Regions from separate parts of the Homo sapiens genome. Here regions 1 and 2 are each linked to region 3. The links come from fine-mapping of genetic effects on gene expression. A gene starts in region 3. Each other region holds a variant in brackets. All regions are shown on one strand. Distances are between the middles of the regions. Region 1 has its middle 18 kb from the start of TPSD1. Region 2 overlaps TRAF7 (TNF receptor associated factor 7). Region 3 holds the start of MLST8 (MTOR associated protein MLST8).

Evidence for each region.
Region 1: its variant is fine-mapped to the expression of MLST8 in amygdala (GTEx, PIP 0.94).
Region 2: its variant is fine-mapped to the expression of MLST8 in whole blood (INTERVAL, PIP 0.99).

The regions. Positions count from the first base shown.
Region 1 is chr16:1,271,280-1,276,773 of GRCh38, reverse strand. It overlaps the pseudogene TPSP1. Among named protein-coding and RNA genes, the nearest start is that of TPSD1, 18 kb to the right of the region's middle. The variant A/C (reference allele first, on the strand shown) is at 2,356.
Region 2 is chr16:2,162,952-2,168,445 of GRCh38, reverse strand. It overlaps TRAF7 (TNF receptor associated factor 7), which reads right to left. Exons shown (of 21, transcript NM_032271.3): 2 at 4,445-4,563; 3 at 2,510-2,567; 4 at 278-369. The coding sequence starts at 4,525. Among named protein-coding and RNA genes, the nearest start is that of TRAF7, 9.9 kb to the right of the region's middle. RefSeq lists enhancers at 2,519-3,291, 3,292-4,065, 4,475-4,974, 4,975-5,476. The variant C/G (reference allele first, on the strand shown) is at 2,374.
Region 3 is chr16:2,202,763-2,208,256 of GRCh38, reverse strand. It overlaps MLST8 (MTOR associated protein MLST8), which reads right to left and starts at 2,803. Exons shown (of 9, transcript NM_022372.6): 1 at 2,745-2,803; 2 at 2,043-2,226; 3 at 1,848-1,899; 4 at 1,598-1,760; 5 at 1,147-1,222; 6 at 912-1,064; 7 at 1-47. The coding sequence starts at 2,171. RefSeq lists enhancers at 470-1,308, 1,309-2,148, 2,988-3,828 and a silencer at 2,246-2,895.

The DNA.
Region 1 (5,494 bases), 930 kb after region 3:
CCCCGGGTCTGAGCCCCCAGCCCGCACTCCACGCCCTCTCCCCGCAGCTGCTGCTGCTGCTGTTCCTGGCTGTCTCCTCCCTGGGGAGCTGTAGCACTGGGAGTCCAGGTGAGTCCCGACCCCACACAGCCCTCCCTTCCCAGGGGCTCTGCCACCCCGTCCCCAGGATCCAGGGGACACGTGCACGGCCCGGCTCCTGCCCGAGGGCAGGCGTGGGGTGAGGCTCGGGTGGCAGAGGCCGGGCTCCCTGACCTCCTTCTGTTGTTCCCAGCTCCCGTCCCCGAGAATGACCTGGTGGGCATTGTGGGGGGCCACAACACCCCCAGGGGAAGTGGTCGTGGCAGGTCAGCCTGAGGATCTATAGCTACCACTGGGCCTCCTGGGTGCCCATCTGCGGGGGCTCCCTCATCCACCCCCAGTGGGTGCTGACCGCCGCTCACTGCATTTTCCGGTGAGTCCTGGGCCGGGGACCCCACCAAGGGGAGGTGGGAGTGGGGCCGCCCCATACCAGGTCCCTTGAGTAGCCTGGGTCTGTCCTCCCCCAGGAAGGACACCGACCCGTCCACCTACCGGATTCACACCAGGGATGTGTATCTGTACGGGGGCCGGGGGCTGCTGAATGTCAGCCAGATCGTCGTCCACCCAACTACTCTGTCTTCTTCCTGGGGGCAGACATCGCCCTGCTGAAGCTGGCCACCAGTGTGAGAACAACAAACACTCTCGCGGCAGTCGCCCTGCCGTCATAGTCCCTGGAGTTCACTGACAGTGACAACTGCTGGAACACAGGCTGGGGCATGGTCGGCCTGTTGGGTGAGAACCAGAGGGACGTGGGGCGGGCGTGCGGGGGGGTCCTGGGAAGGCTCATGAAAGACAAGCCCTTGGTTTGCACATTCTGGGGTTTCTCTTGCTAGGGTTGGGGTGCAGGGTTCAGGTGAGCTGCCCTGGGGAATTCAAGCTCATAAAACAGGGAGCAAAGAAAATGAGCCTTTGGGGTGGGTGGCAGGAGCCACTGACTGTGCTGTGCGTGTGTGTGTGGAACACGTATCTTACCCATAGACATATTGCAAGACATTTTCTTCATTTTGTGGAAAAGAAAATGGGTTCAAAGAGGGCACGAATTTATCCATCTGTCCATCCCTCCACTGAAGGCTGCAGAGACCCTGAAGCTTTCTTCCTTTCCTGCTTCGGGCCTCTGTTCTTTGAAAGGCAATACCTGGTGCTGTTCTAGAGCGCGTAGATCCCGCCTCCCTTTTCTAGAGTGTGTGCGTAGGTCCTGCCTCCCTTTTCTAGGGAGAAAGAGAGTGTGTGTGTGTGGTCCCATCTCCCTTTTCTAGAGTGTGTGTGTGTGTGTGTGTGTGGTCCCGTCTCCCTTTTCTAGAGTGTGTGTGTACATCCCGCCTCCCTTTTCTAGAGTGTGTGCGTAGGTCCTGCCTCCCTTTTCTAGAGTGTGTGCGTAGGTCCTGCCTCCCTTTTCTAGAGTGTGTGTGTGTGTGTGTGGTCCCGTCTCCCTTTTCTAGAGCGTGTGTGTGTGTGTGTGGTCCCGTCTCCCTTTTCTAGAGCGTGTGTGTGTGTGTGTGTGTGTGGTCCCGTCTCCCTTTTCTAGAGTGTGTGTGTACATCCCGCCTCCCTTTTCTAGAGTGTGTGGGGGTCCCGTCTCCCTTTTCTACAGTGTGTGCGTAGGTCCTGCCTCCCTTTTCTAGAGTGTGTGCATAGGTCCTGCCTCCCTTTTCTAGAGTGTGTGTGTGTGTAGGGTCCTGTCTTCCTTTTCTAGAGTGTGTGTGTAGGTCCCGCCTCCCTTTTCTAGAGTGTGTGCGTAGGTCCTGCCTCCCTTTTCTAGAGTGTGTGCATAGGTCCCGCCTCTCTTTTCTAGAGTGTGTGTGTAGGGTCCCATCTCCCTTTGCTCCCAATTTAAAAGGTATTGGTGGATGGGGGTGGTAGGGTGGTGGGGGAGTGTGTGCGGTGACTCACACCTGTAATCTCAGCACTTTGGGAGGCCAAGGTAGGAGGATCACTTGAGCCTAGGAGTTCAAGACCAGCCTGGCCAACACAGGGAGACCCCATCTCCACAAAAAATTAAAAAATATATATATTGGCCAGGCATGGTGGCTCGCACCTGTAATCCCAGCACTTTGGGAGGCTGAGGCCAGTGGATCATTTGAGATCAGGAGTTCAAGACCAGCCTGGCCAACATGGTGAAACCCTGACTCTACTAAAAACACAAAAATTAGCTGGGCGTGGTGGTGGGTGCTTGTAATCTCAGCTACTCAGGAGGCTGAGGCAGGAGAACTGCTTGAGCCCAGGAGGCAGAGGTTGCACTAAGCAGAGATTGTGCCATTGTACTCCAGTCTGGGCGAC[A/C]GGGTGAGACTCCATCTTAAAAAAATTAAAATTAGCTGGGCATGGTGGTGTAGGCCTGTGGTCCCAGCTACTTGGAAGGCTGAGGCTGGAGGATTGCTTGAGCATCGCTGGAGCCTGGGAGGCGGAGGCTGCAGGGAGCTATGATTATGCCACTGTACCCTACCCTGGCATTTCCCTTCTGGGTTCCTGCAGCTTTAGAGGTGGAGCCCCTTTGACTCCACCTTAGGCTGTGTAGGCTGAGCATCCCAGGTCCTGAGCTGAGGCTGGGGGCAGGGAGGGGTCCTGCCATGGTGCTGGTTGGGGGCCCCTCCTGAGCTGCTCCCGCCACCCGTGGCTTGTCTCTGCAGATATGCTGCCGCCTCCTTACCGCCCGCAGCAGGTGAAGGTCCTCACACTGAGCAATGCAGACTGTGAGCGGCAGACCTACGATGCTTTTCCTGGTGCTGGAGACAGAAAGTTCATCCAGGATGACATGATCTGTGCCGGCCGCACGGGCCGCCGCACCTGGAAGGTGAGACCTGGCGCCTCTCTCCTGCCATCTCTTTTCCTGTCTGCGGCTCCGATGCTGGACTTGGATGTGCAGGGTCCTGGGTCTCTGGTCAAGCTGGGCCTTCTCTGCTCCACAGGGTGACTCAGGCAGCCCCCTGGTCTGCAAGAAGAAGGGTACCTGGCTCCAGGCGGGAGTAGTGAGCTGGGGATTTTACAGTGATCGGCCCAGCATTGGCGTCTACACGTGAGTCCAGACCTATGTGCCCTGGATCCTGCAGCAAATGCACCTCTAAGCCCCAGGCTCCTCCCAGCTCCCCAAGAATCCAGTTCCTTCCTCGTCCTGGCCCCTCCGCTCCCTGCGCCTTCCAGCACCCACCTTCTCTGCTCCTCCATCGCACATGGTCCTCACTCCCCTCCACCTTTTCAGACCTATCACCTTCCTCCCTCACACTGGGAGGAGGAGGCATGGAAGGTGCTTTGAATGGGGGTGAGGTTAGGGATGGAAGTCCTGGAGCCAGTTTGCAGTATCGTCTCGTTAAACTGTTAGCAAGGCAAACCAGAAAGTGGCCAGTGTGTTCCTGAGTGTGGGTGCGGCTGGCGGGCAGTGACCGGGGGCTTCCTGACGTGGGTGCATCTGCTCTGGACAGTTGCACTGTAGAAATGGCTGCTCCAGACCAGACATTCTTTGGTGGTGGAGGGAAATGATGAATGGGGTGGTAAGATCAGGGGAAATATTCTCAGTGATGACTCTACTCTTGGGGGCCCAGCTCCCAGCCCAGCCCTCCACTAAAAGAACAGGTCAGCCTCATTACCAAATTTCAACCATCTACCATCTGTCTACCCATCTACCCGTACTAAATCCATCCACTCATCCAGCCATCAATTCATCCATCCATCCATCCACCCACCTATCCACTAATTAATCAATCCATCCATCCATCCATCCATCCAACCATCCATCCATCCATCCACCTATCTATTGATCTACCCATCCATCCACCCACCCACGAATCTATCCACTCGTCCATCTGTCCATCTGTCCGTCCACCCACCCACCCATCTAACCTGCCCAGCTCTGCCCAGCCCTGCCCAGTGCCCACCTGCAGCCCTGCCCAGCCATGCCCAGTGCCCAGGGCATCTCCAGGGTGTGGCACAGGAGGCTTCTGAGGAAACCCAAGCACGGTTTACATCCCTAGTTGCTGGGCCACTGTTTGCCCTGGGGCATTGGAGCATTTAGCACTGAGACTTCCCATATGGCCGCCCTGTGCCCGCCTCGCAGAAGGTCTGGGACTAGGGCTGGGTCAGGGAGGCTGCTGGGCTGTGACGGGGCACCAGGCATCCTCAACCTGAGATGGGGAAGTCTTCATTCTCCTTTCTCTTGCACCCCCCACCCCCAAGGTGAGGGTCAGGTGAGGCTGAGAAGGCCCCTGAGCACCCAGAGGGGCAGCTACACTCTCCTGCTGGAGAAAGGGGCTTCACGGAGAGGCTGGCCCGGGAGGGGGTCTGAGTCTGGTCCCTTCCGGCTTCACACCGTGAGTGAAGCAGCAGGGATGTTGTCTCTCCCGGCAGGTCCCTCCCACCTCACCCGGAGAGAACCACACAGGGCAAGGGCTAGATGTCTGGGCTCCCCAGTAGAGAGGAGGGGGCCTCTGTATTCAGACAGTGGGGTGCGGGGGGAGATCAGGGACAGATCAGAACTGTGGTGAGGGCCCCGTGCCTAAAGCAGGATGCAGCCTGGACAACGGCACAGAGCCCACTACGCGCAGGTCCCTTTTGCAGCACTGCAGTTGGAGGCAGAGCTGGGCAGGTGCTGGGGTGGGTGCTGCGGCAGCTGGCAGTGTGCCAACCATGCAGAGGCCCAGAGACCAGCTGGCAGGGTGCCAACCATGCAGAGGCCCAGGACCAGCTGGCAGGGTGCCAACCATGCAGAGGCCCAGAGACCAGCTGGCAGGGTGCCAACCATGCAGACGCCCAGAGACCAGCTGGCAGGGTGCCAACCATGCAGACGCCCAGAGACCAGCTGGCAGGGTGCCAACCATGCAGAGGCCCAGAGACATGGGCCAGGGCCAGGAGTGGGTCTGCAGGCCCTTCACCCACGTCACCTGCTACCCGACGGCCATCCCCAGGCCCTTCACCCATGTCACCTGCTACCTGATGGCTGTCCCCAGCACCCTCACCCACGTCACCTGCTACCCGACGGCCGTCCCCAGGCCCTTCACCCATGTCACCTGCTACCTGATGGCTGTCCCCAGCACCCTCACCCACATCACCTGCTACATGATGGCCGTCCCCAGGCCCTTTACCCACATCACCTGCTACCCAATGGCTGTCCCCAGCACCCTTACCCACGTCACCTGCCACCCGACGGCCATCCCCAGGCCCTTCACCCACATCACCTGCTACACGATGGCCATCCCCAGGCCTTCAACCACGCCACCTGCTACACGACGGCCATCCCCAGCACCCTCACCCACGTCACCTGCTACACGATGGCCGTCCCCAGGCCCATCACCCATGTCACCTGCTACACGATAGCTGTTCTCAGGCCCTGCCACAGGGACAAAGGGGCCACCCTGATGAGGGACAGGAATCTCACTGACGTCGCCCCCCCCCCCCCCCCCGCTCATAGAGGATGCAGGCCCACGGATGC
Region 2 (5,494 bases), 40 kb after region 3:
AAGATGGAGCCAAATATGCCTCATCCTGGCCTGCAGGTGCCAGGCCCTCTGACCCAGCTGCCCTCACTGGCTGCCCCCTGCCACCCACAGTCCAGCCACAGGAGCCTCCTTTCTCACAGACTTGCCATGTCTGCCGAGGCCTCAGGGTATCCACAGGTGCTCTTCTTCTCCTGTGCCTCACCAGCTCACTGTCAACTCCTCCTGGGACCTGGTTCCCCCAGGAGGGAGGATGGGGGGAGGCTGAGGCTCACACGGGCTCCTGGGGGTAGGGACCTACCATGCTGTCCTCCTCGTCCCGCGGGGAGTAGGCAAGGGTGCTGGAGGAGGAGGGTGTCCTGCAGTGCTGCTTGTAGGTGCTGGTCCCGTCAGCTGCAAGGCAAGAGGGCTGGCGTCTCAGTGGGGGCTCCCTCAGCAGATGTGGGGGAGGTGGGGCCCATGCTGGATACCCGACCCTGTGGGTCCCCTGTAGCTCACAGCCCTCCCCAGGGCCAGGCAGGCAGGAAAGCATGCAGGGATGGCACGGGGGAAGCTTGGGTTCCCTCTCAAGGTCAAACCAGTGCCAGGAGCATGGACGCTGGGCTCGGTCTACATCTGGACAGTCCCAGCGCTGAGCCCGGTAGCCCCTGCCCCAGCCCTGCCTACCCCAGGCAGGGTCTTCTTTCAGGGCCTCTACAAGCTCCCCAGCACCCCAATTGAGCCAGCTGAGGCTCATGGCCAGCACGCAGCCATCACTCTGAAGGCCGCCTGGCAGCAGCTGGGGGTGCCATTTTATTTGCCTCTTGAGGCACCTCTGCCAGGTGAGTTCCCTGACAGCCTCCACTCACAGAGGGGGAAGCTGAGGTTGAGGTGTGGGCTGGGATACAGAAGGGCCAGGACCGCATCCTGGTGTCCCTGGCACAGCCAGGACCAGGAAGTGGCCCCAGCTTTGGTGGCCTCCTCTGGGGCAGGAGCTGAAGTGCCCTCCCTCCTCCTGCCCACACGTCACCCCAGCTTGGCCAGGGCCAGAGGGCAGGGCTACCGGCCGGTCAGTCCACGTGGGAGGCAGAGAGAGACACCTCCCGGACTCAGGACCAGCCCAGCTCAGATGTCACGATGAGCCCTGGGCTCGAGATTGAGGCCTCGAGAGGCTGCCGTGTGACTGGGCCTCGGTTTCCCCATCTGTCATGAGGGGCCAGGTGAGGTACCTGTGGGCGCCCTGCTGCCTGGCTCTGCCCATCCCTGCCGCCGAGGGGCCAGGCATAGCAGCCGTGCCCTGCCCCATCATGGGTACCTTCCGCCGTGTGACAGGGGCCATGGGGCTTCTAAGGGTAGATGAAAAGGCACCGTTTTTTGGGGGGTAGGATTAGAAAAAAAAAGAGGGCCCCTGGAGAGCCCCTGAGGGGATCACCAGCAGCAAAGAGGCGCTACTGTAAGCAGGTGTCCTTGGCGGCCCTATGACCCCATGGCCAGGTTTATCAGAGCAATTAAAAAGCTAATTAGCAGCCAGTGTGCTTCTACAAAGGGCAGAGTGCCAGAAAGGAGAGAGAACAAAGTCACCCCAGAACCCCACCCCGGAATGAGGGTCCCTGGCCCTGCACCTCGGGAAGAAGGCACTGCCACTTCCGCATGGTCTCCCTGAGCACGGCGCTTGCGTTCAAAGCGCAGCACTCTGGTTTTTAGGGGATAGGACTGAGAAGCAGCAGGGAAGCTTCAGGTTTCTGTCGTGTATCCCGCCCAGTGGTCTTGTGCAGGTGAAGATTTATTGGGCTTGGCTTGCTGGCTCATGCCTGTAATTCCAGCACTTTGGGAGGCCAAGGCAGGAGGATCACGTGAGCCCAGGAATTTGAGACCATCCTGGGCAACATGGTGAGACCTCATCTCTACCAAACATAAAAAAAATTAGCCAGGTGTGGTGGTGCCTGTGGTCCCAGCTACCTGGGAGGCTGAGGTGGCAGGACTGATCCCAGGAGGCACAGGTTGCAGTGAGCCAAGATTGCGCCACTGCATTCCAGCTTGGGTGACAGAGTGACACCCGTCTCAAAAAAACAAACCAGACTTATGGATCTCTTCCACTCTCCCTCCCTTCCTATTAACATGTCACAACTGCAGCACTGTTACTGAAGCCCTAGGGCCAAACTCAAGAGAAGACCTCCGGGCACACGGGACCTTTCGGAGGCTGGCCAGGAGCCTGAGACTGGGGACAAGCTGGGGATCACTGTGACAAGGGACAGGGCTGTGTGGTGGTGCTGGAGATGTCAGGGCAAGCCTCCCTAGAGGGGATGAAGAGGGCAGGGAGAGAGGGCACAGCACAGTCACCGAGGCACAAGGAGCAGGACACCCGACTCCTGTCCAGTGGGGAGGCCCAGGGCTGAGAGGCTGTGAGGACACAGGCTG[C/G]GGTGTGAGGCTGCCCGCGCCCAGCACTGGCACCCAACACCAGCTCACCGGGAAGTGTCCCTCAGTCCTTAGCAGGGTGGGCATGGGGGTGCCCCGGTTATTCCCAGCCTGGGCTGGCCTTGGCTTAAGGGCTCACCTTTTGTGATGGTGGTGACGGCTGAAAAGGCGGGTCCGAAGGTCGTTTCCATTCTGGTCTAGAGGGAGGACGGAGGAGACCTGGCCTCATTCCGGGACACAAGGAGGACGTGCACATGTGGAGCCCACTCACATGCCTAACACGCGACCAGGCCAGGCCACGCAGCACTCACACACTTAACCATGCGACCAGGCCACGCCACGCAGCACTCACACGCTTAATCATGCGACCAGGCCGCGCCACGCAGCGCTAACACGCTTAACCATGCGACCAGGCCAGGCCACGCAGCACTCACACGCTTAACCATGCGACCAGGCTGCGCCACACAGCACTCACACGCTTAACCATGCGACCAGGCCAGGCCACGCAGCACTAACACGCTAAACCATGCGACCAGGCCAGGCCACGCAGCACTCACACGTTTAACCATGCGACCAGGCTGCGCCACACAGCACTCACACGCTTAACCATGCGACCAGGCCAGGCCACGCAGCACTAACACGCTTAACCATGCGACCAGGCCAGGCCACGCAGCACTCACACGCTTAACCATGCGACCAGGCCGCGCCACGCAGCACTCACACGCTTAACCATGCGACCAGGCCGCGCCACACAGCACTCACACACTTAACCATGCGACCAGGCCGCGCCACGCAGCACTAACACGCTTAACCATGCGACCAGGCCGCGCCACGTAGCACTAACACGCTTAACCATGCGACCAGGCCAGGCCATGCAGCACTCACACGCTTAACCATGCGACCAGGCCAGGCCACGCAGCACTCACACGCTTCAGCATGCGACCAGGCCAGGCCACGCAGCACTCACACGCTTAACCATGCGACCAGGCCAGGCCATGCAGCACTCACACGCTTCAGCATGCGACCAGGCCAGGCCATGCAGCACTCACACGCTTAACCATGCGACCAGGCCAGGCCACGCAGCACTCACACGCTTAACCATGCGACCAGGCTGCGCCACACAGCACTCACACGCTTAACCATGCGACCAGGCCAGGCCACGCAGCACTAACACGCTTAACCATGCGACCAGGCCAGGCCACGCAGCACTCACACGCTTAACCATGCGACCAGGCTGCGCCACACAGCACTCACACGCTTAACCATGCGACCAGGCCAGGCCACGCAGCACTAACACGCTTAACCATGCGACCAGGCCAGGCCACGCAGCACTCACACGCTTAACCATGCGACCAGGCCGCGCCACGCAGCACTCACACGCTTAACCATGCAACCAGGCCGCGCCACACAGCACTCACACGCTTAACCATGCGACCAGGCCGCGCCACGCAGCACTAACACGCTTAACCATGCGACCAGGCCGCGCCACGTAGCACTAACATGCTTAACCATGCGACCAGGCCAGGCCACGCAGCACTCACACGCTTAACCATGCGACCAGGCCAGGCCACGTAGCACTCACACGCTTAACCATGCGACCAGGCCAGGCCACGCAGCACTAACACGCTTAACCATGCGACCAGGCCAGGCCACGCAGCACTCACACGCTTAACCATGCGACCAGGCCGCACCACGCAGCACTAACACGCTTAACCATGCAACCAGGCCGCGCCACGCAGCACTAACACGCTTTACCATGCGACCAGGCCAGGTCACGCAGCACTCACACGCTTAACCATGCGACCAGGCCGCGCCACGCAGCACTCACACGCTTAACCATGCAACCAGGCCGCGCCACACAGCACTAACACGCCCCAACCACACACGCACGCGTGCGCGCGCGCGCGCGCGCGCGCACACACACACACACACACACCACACCCCCCCCCACCGAGCTCCCCTGAGACCCCAGCTCGGGACGGGACTGCGCTGGGAGCTCTGCAGGCAACACCAGATCCCTGGGGCATGCTGGGGGTCCTGGGGATGTTGGGCTTGCAGAGGGGCACACCCTTACCCCTGTGGTGACGTCTGGGGTGGGAAGATTGCTGGGCCCCCCGGAGAAGCGGTTGTAGCGGGCACTCTTGCCTGAGCTCATGCTCTAGAGAGGCATCTACGGTCCTTGGGAAGCACCTCCTGTGGGTGGAGCACAAATGAGGGGCTTGAGAGATGGAGCCCAGGCCCCTGTGAGTCAGACGGGCTGCTGCAAGTGTGCAGACCTGCTGTGGGGCACCGTGGGGCCGCCGCAGCAGCCTTCCACCACCAGCCCCGGCTCAGGCAGGCCTCTAGGAGGCAAAGGTCCTTCACCCCGATCCCAGGTATGCAGAGGCCCGGGCAGGCAGGCGGCTCTGCGTCACCGTCCCTCAAGGCTTAGCCTTTCTGAGCTCCCGAAGAGCCCATCCAGCTCTTCCCCGAGGTGGAGGGACCCCTGCCTGGCTCCCTCTACTCCTCTGGGTCCTGAGTCACAGCCAGTCACCTCCAGGCTGAATGTCCCTGGGGCCAAGGCTGGGCCTTGGTGGGTAGGCCCAGGGTGTGGCCCACGTGGCGGGACGCAGTCACACAGGGACCAGCCAAGGCACGACGAATGTGTTTCCTGCCACGACAGGTGCGGTCAGGACCCAGCCAGCACCAGGCTGCAGCGGGGAGACACCAGCCACACCCCAGAGAAAGAACCTGCAGGGTGAGTCACCGGAGCCCAACTCCACACAAACCGCACTGCACGGAAAAAAGCACAGGAGAGAGATGAGCCCGCCCCTGGAACCCGTGCAGGTCACCCACACTCCCAGCCACGCCACAGGGGCTCAGGGGCTGGTGGGTGGGGGGGCAGGGAGAAGGCATGCGGGAATCACCCTCCCCAGAAGAGAGGGGCTGGTGGGCCTGGGGGAGACGTGGCCCCTCCGTGGGTGCTGGGAGTGCTGGCCAGGCCCAGGGACACCAGTAGGGGAAGGTAAACATTAGAGAGAAAAAGAGACCCAGCCAACAGGTCACACCCAGGACAGAGCCCGGGGAAGGGGCTGTCCATGCTGGATGACGCCCACTCTCCCCCCGTGAGGCACCAGGCTCTGTC
Region 3 (5,494 bases):
ACCTCGTCACCAATGCCCCCCGTCAGATTCCAGACATAGCAGTTTCCCTAGAGGTCAGGAGGACCGTCACGGAGGGCCCAAGGCCTCAGGTCTGAGACACAGGGAAGGATGCCCTGGGGGCCAACACTGGGGGCCAACTGTGCATGGGGACCCCGGGTGAGGGGCAGGCAGGCCCCTCTGGTCCTGCCTGCAGAAGGCACCTGGGAAGCCTGGCCCCAAGCAAGGGCCACACCTGGCAAGCCAAGAACAGGAGGCCACGCCTGGCCAAGGACTCAAATTCTCCTTCCTGGAGGATGCCGATGGCCAACGGAAGTAGACAGGAGAAGGGCACCAGCTAGAGAGACAGCATGACAAAGGCCAGCAGAAGGGAAATCCGGGGGCAAGAGGTACAAGTGATGCACTGGGATTAAATGAAGTTAATGAAAAAAAATGAGGCTGGAGAGAAGAGCAGGGGCCACGCCACAGCAGCCTACGGGCGAGGCCAGCAGCCCCGGGTCTCCTCAGGGGAATGACGCCACCTGGCTGATACTGACCAGGCACCACTAGAAGCATCCAAGAGAGAACGTGTCAGGGGCCAGGGGAGGTCAGGGAGGGGGAAAGGAAGCCTCAGAGAGTGTGTCAGCCGTCACCAGAAACAAGGGTGACTGGGACCAGGAGGCAACAGAGTGAAAAGAGGGAAGTGGATCGACTTGGGAGAGACTCCAGAAAGCGGAGTGACCGACCTGCAGACAGGACTAAGCCATCGGGAGCGACACTAAGGCTTCTGGCTTTGCTGGCAAGGTGGGTGTTAGTGCCCGGGATGGGGAAAGCAGGAGGGGGCCGCTAAGGGACATCCAGGAATAAGCCCACCTGCAGAGGCTGAGGGCTGAGTGCCAAGCTGCCCGCACCCAGCACCTGCCACCAGGACTCACGGTGCTATTGACAGCTGCCATGTAGCTGGCGTCGGGATCGATGTGGGCGGACGTGATGGAGACCTCGGGCTCAGGGATCAGCTGCTCGTTGTGGTCTGTTTTCAAGTCCCAGATGTGGATAGCCCCGCTCTGGTCACCCACGATGAGCTCTGCCTGGGGTGCAGGGGTGGTGAGGCAGGGCCCAAGCCCAGCCCTCCAAAGTCCCAGGGTGCCTGGCCCCATGAGCACCCCTCACCTGGTTGGGGTGCAGGCACACGCAGTTAATGGGTGCGTTCACCTGGAAGATCCGCTGGCACTGCAGGTTCCGGGACCTGCGGGCCGGGCCGGGGCACATGCTGTCCATCTGGGCTTGTTGGTGCCCTACCCAGATGGCCTCGGCCTGGCCATTCCTCCCCTCCCTCTGCTGAAGGACCTGCCTCTTGGGAAATACTTGGGACGCAGGGCCCTCTGCTCCAGCAGGGAGCCTAAGCCAGTGGCTGGTGGAAGGGGAATAACAAGCTGGCTCCGGGCTCAAGGCAGGACTCGCGCTCTGATGCAATTCACTCTCCTCCTGTCCTCACTTCTCTCAGTAAGTCGCCCACAGGAAGCTCCCTGTCTCAGCCTCTGCTTGAAGAGAACCCAACCTAAAACGGTCTCCCAGAGCAGCCCACCCCAGCCCCGGGCAGCACGCCCCCTCCCCACCGCACCTGAGGTCCCAGATCCTGGCTGTGCAGTCCTCGCCGCCCGTGTACATCCAGCGGCCGTCTTCGTGGAAGCCCACAGACGCGATGTTCTTGTTGACGCCGTCGTAGCTGATGATGGGGTTAGGGTTATTGGAGTTGAGATCATACATGCGGATGTGCTGGTAACCTAGGGACACAGGCTGAACTGAAGCTTGGCTGTGCTGAGGTCGACCCACCAGAGCTCAGGAGTTTAGAGATCAAGGATCACAGATACCTGCAGCAGCAATCATGCTGCGGTCCGGTGTGACCTCCAAGGCATTCACCTGCTGGGACTGTTAAGGAGGATGACGGGAAGGTAGCCCTGAGGCCAGGGCCCCCCAGGCCTCCACCATCTGGCCTTCACACAGGCTGTGGTCCCCACACGAGGCATCCCCCCAGCGCCGCCCTGCCCGCCCCGGGTGGAGGATACGGAGTCCTGGTGCTGCACCGTCCGGGTGCAGATGCCGCTGTGGGCCTGCCAGAAGCGCACGGTGTGGTCGTAGCCTGCAGTGGCCAGGATGACCGGGTCACTGCCCACCGTGCCTGGGGAGGTGTTCATGGTGTGGCCTGCACGGGCCCTAGAGCTGAACGGCAGGGGTCAAAGGTCAGAGCATCTGCAGAGAAGGATGTGAAGTACTTAGAAGACACTCTCTGTGCTAAGTAGATTATAGACCCACAAGGCGCTGCCGAATGGCGCTTATCATTCCCATTTTAGAGTTGGGACAAGAAGCGCAGGTAGGTTCAGGGACACGCGTCACACGCGTGATACCTGGCTCCGGGGCTCCAGGGCGCGTGCTCCATCCCCGCCCCACGCACACGGCGGGGGCGCCGTCCCCCCCCCACCTCCGCAGCCGGCAGGGGGGAGTCACGCGCGGGCGCCACTCTGCCGCAGGGGCGGGCTGCGCGTGCGCAAGGCGGCGGATGGGCCGGGGAAAGCCGAGCGCTGCGGCTGCGCATGCGTAGCAGGCCAGCGGCAGGCCCTGATGGGAAAGGGCGCAGTCTGGCTGGACCCCCGAGCTCCCCTTTCCTCCGGTGACCGCCCTTGCTCCGTCCTGCTGGCCGGCTTCCCCTGGCCGTGCTCTCCCAGCCACCCAGCAGCCGGTTCCCGGCCCCTGGCTCGCGGCCTCCGTACCTTACGGGCGGCTCCGCACTCCGCCGTGTCCAGGACGGCGAGGGGAGCCGGAGCGAGTCGATCGAGGCCGAGCGTAGAGTTATCGATGGCTCCCTAGGGCGAGACCATGGCGCGGGCGGGGGTGGGTGGGACGAGACCAAAGTTCTGGGGCGGGGGGTTCCCGCCGGGAGGAACTCGGAGCGGTCCCCGTGCGCGGCCGCGGGCCCGGCGCGAGGTGGAAGGAAGCTGCGGCTTTCTCTCCGGCCTCCTGCCCACTGGCACCTGCCCTTCTGACACGGCTGTCCGTTTCCCGGGCTGTCGGGTCGCGCTGTTCCGGTGCCCTCCCTGACCCACTACTGCGCCACGCTGGGCTAGGATTGGCTGAAAATTACAGGACTTGAATTCAGACAAGTAACGAATAATTTTTTTTTTAGTGTAAGTATATCCAGGACATTGCATGGGAAATACTTATGCTAAAAAAATTTTATTGGGTATCCTGTAGTTTTACTTGCTAGATCTGGCACCCCAGCCCCAGCCTGACCCTCAGGACATCCCACTGAGCCCAGGGTCCCCCTCAAAACCACAGGCCCTCATTCCAGCTCTGTGAGCTCCACGCCGGTGCCCTCACCCTTGAGACAGGCTGTCGCATGGTTTTTTCCTGCTGCTCTTACAGACCTGGCTGCACCCCTTCCTCTGGCCGCAGAGGGGGTGCATCTTGTCCCTTGACCAGGCCATAGTTCCCATGGAGCCTTCCTTCCTATACCTTCACCTCCTCTCCTTCCTGCCGGTTAGCCTTTAAAAAAACACCATAAAACAATCCCAAATTATCTTCTTCAAAGAGCGGTCCTCACCATTTTTCTAGTTCCACGTCCTCACCTCCCACTCATTCCGCAACCCCAGTCATCTGCCTTTTACCCCCAGCTCTCTAGCTCTCCAGTGGAAATTCCTCAAGGTCACTGACAATCTCACTTTGCTAAATCCAGTGGATACTTTTCCTTCTTCCCACCTTTTTTTTTTTTTTCTCTCGAGACAGAGTCTCGCTTTCTCGCCCAGGCTGGAGTGCAGTGGTGCAATCTCGACTCACTGCAAAACCTCTGCCTCCCAGGTTCAAGCGATTTTCCTGCCTCAGCCTCCCGAGTAGCTGGGATTACAGGCACGCACCACCACACCTGGCTGATTTTTGTATTTTTAGTGGAGACGGGATTTCACCATGTTCGCAAGGCTGGTCTCAAACTCCTGACCTCAAGTGATCCGCCTACCTCAGCCTCCCAAAGTGCTGGGATTACAGGCGTGAGCCACTGCGCCCGGCCTCTTCCCACTTCTTCTTTCTTTTTTTTTTTTTTTTTATTGAGACGGAGTCTCGCTTTGTTGCCAGGCTGGAGTGCAGTGGTGCGATCTCGGCTCTCCACAATCTCCACCTCCCGGGTTCAAGCTATTCTCCTGCCTCAGCCTCCCGGGTAGCTGGGATTACAGGTGCATGCCACCACACCCAGTTAATTTTTCTATTTTTAGTAGAGACAGACTTTTCACCATGTTGGCCAGGATGGTGGATGGTCTTGATCTCGTGACCTCGTGATCCGCCCCCCTCAGCCTCCCAAAGTGCTGGGATTACAGGCGTGAGCCACTGCGCCCGGCCCCCTCCCACTTCTTGACGCATCTGAGCCATGGTTGACGGCACCATGCCTGAAAGGCTGCCTTCTCCTAGCTCCTGTCCCCGACATTTAGTCTCTTTCCCTGCCTGCCCGCAAGGACTCAGGCCCTTCAGCATTCACTCTGTGCACCCCACGAGATACCAGGGGGCTGATGACTGCTAGCTCTGGAGCTTCCAATGCTGTCCCTGTCCTGGGCCCCTTCCACCCTGTCTCCAGCTCTGATGGCCTCAGCTCCCTGTTAAGACACTGTCCCTTGAATGCCCCGCAGGGTCCACCATATTCCAGGGCCAAGACAACCCATCCCTGAGTAGCTCCCCTTCTGTGGGCAGTGCCCACCTTGTATTACAGCTGGGCAAGATCCGACACCTCCCCTCCCTCACCCTTCCCTTCCCTTCAGCCACCGATTTTACCTGTGATATACCTTCCTGTCCTTTCCACTGCCCTGGTTCTAGCTCACCACCCCCATCCCCCATAAAAGCCTCCTTCCTTGCCCCAGCCACTCTGGCCCCCTTCCAAACTGTCCACCACAGTGCAGAATGGCCTTTTATTTATTTATTTATTTATTTATTTATTTATTTATTTATTTTTGAGACGGATTTTCACTCTTGTTGCCCAGGCTGGAGTGCAATGGCGCGATCTCGACTCGCTGCAACCTCCACCTCCTGGGTTCCTCAGTCTCCTGAGTAGCTGGGATTACAGGCATGCACCACCATCCCAGCTAATTTTGTATTTTTAGTAGAGACAGGGTTTCTCCATGTTGGTCAGGCTGGTCTTGAATTCCTAACCTCAAGTGACCCACCCACCTCAGCTTCTCAAAGTGCTAGGTTTACAGGCGTGAGCCATCGCGCCCGGCCAGAGTGGCCTTTTAAAAACCTCAGTCTGAGCCCAGCACAGTGATTCATGCCTGTAATCCCAGCACTTTCGAAGGCTGAGGCAGGAGGATCACTCGAGCCCAGAAGTTCAAGACCATCCTGAACAATATAGTGATACCCCATCTCTACAAAAAATTTAAAAATTAGTCAGGAATGGTGGTGCGTGCCTGTGGTCCCAGCTTTGGGAGGCTGAGGTGGAAGGATCACTCGAGGCCAGGAACTCGAGGCTGCAGTAAGCTGTGGTTGA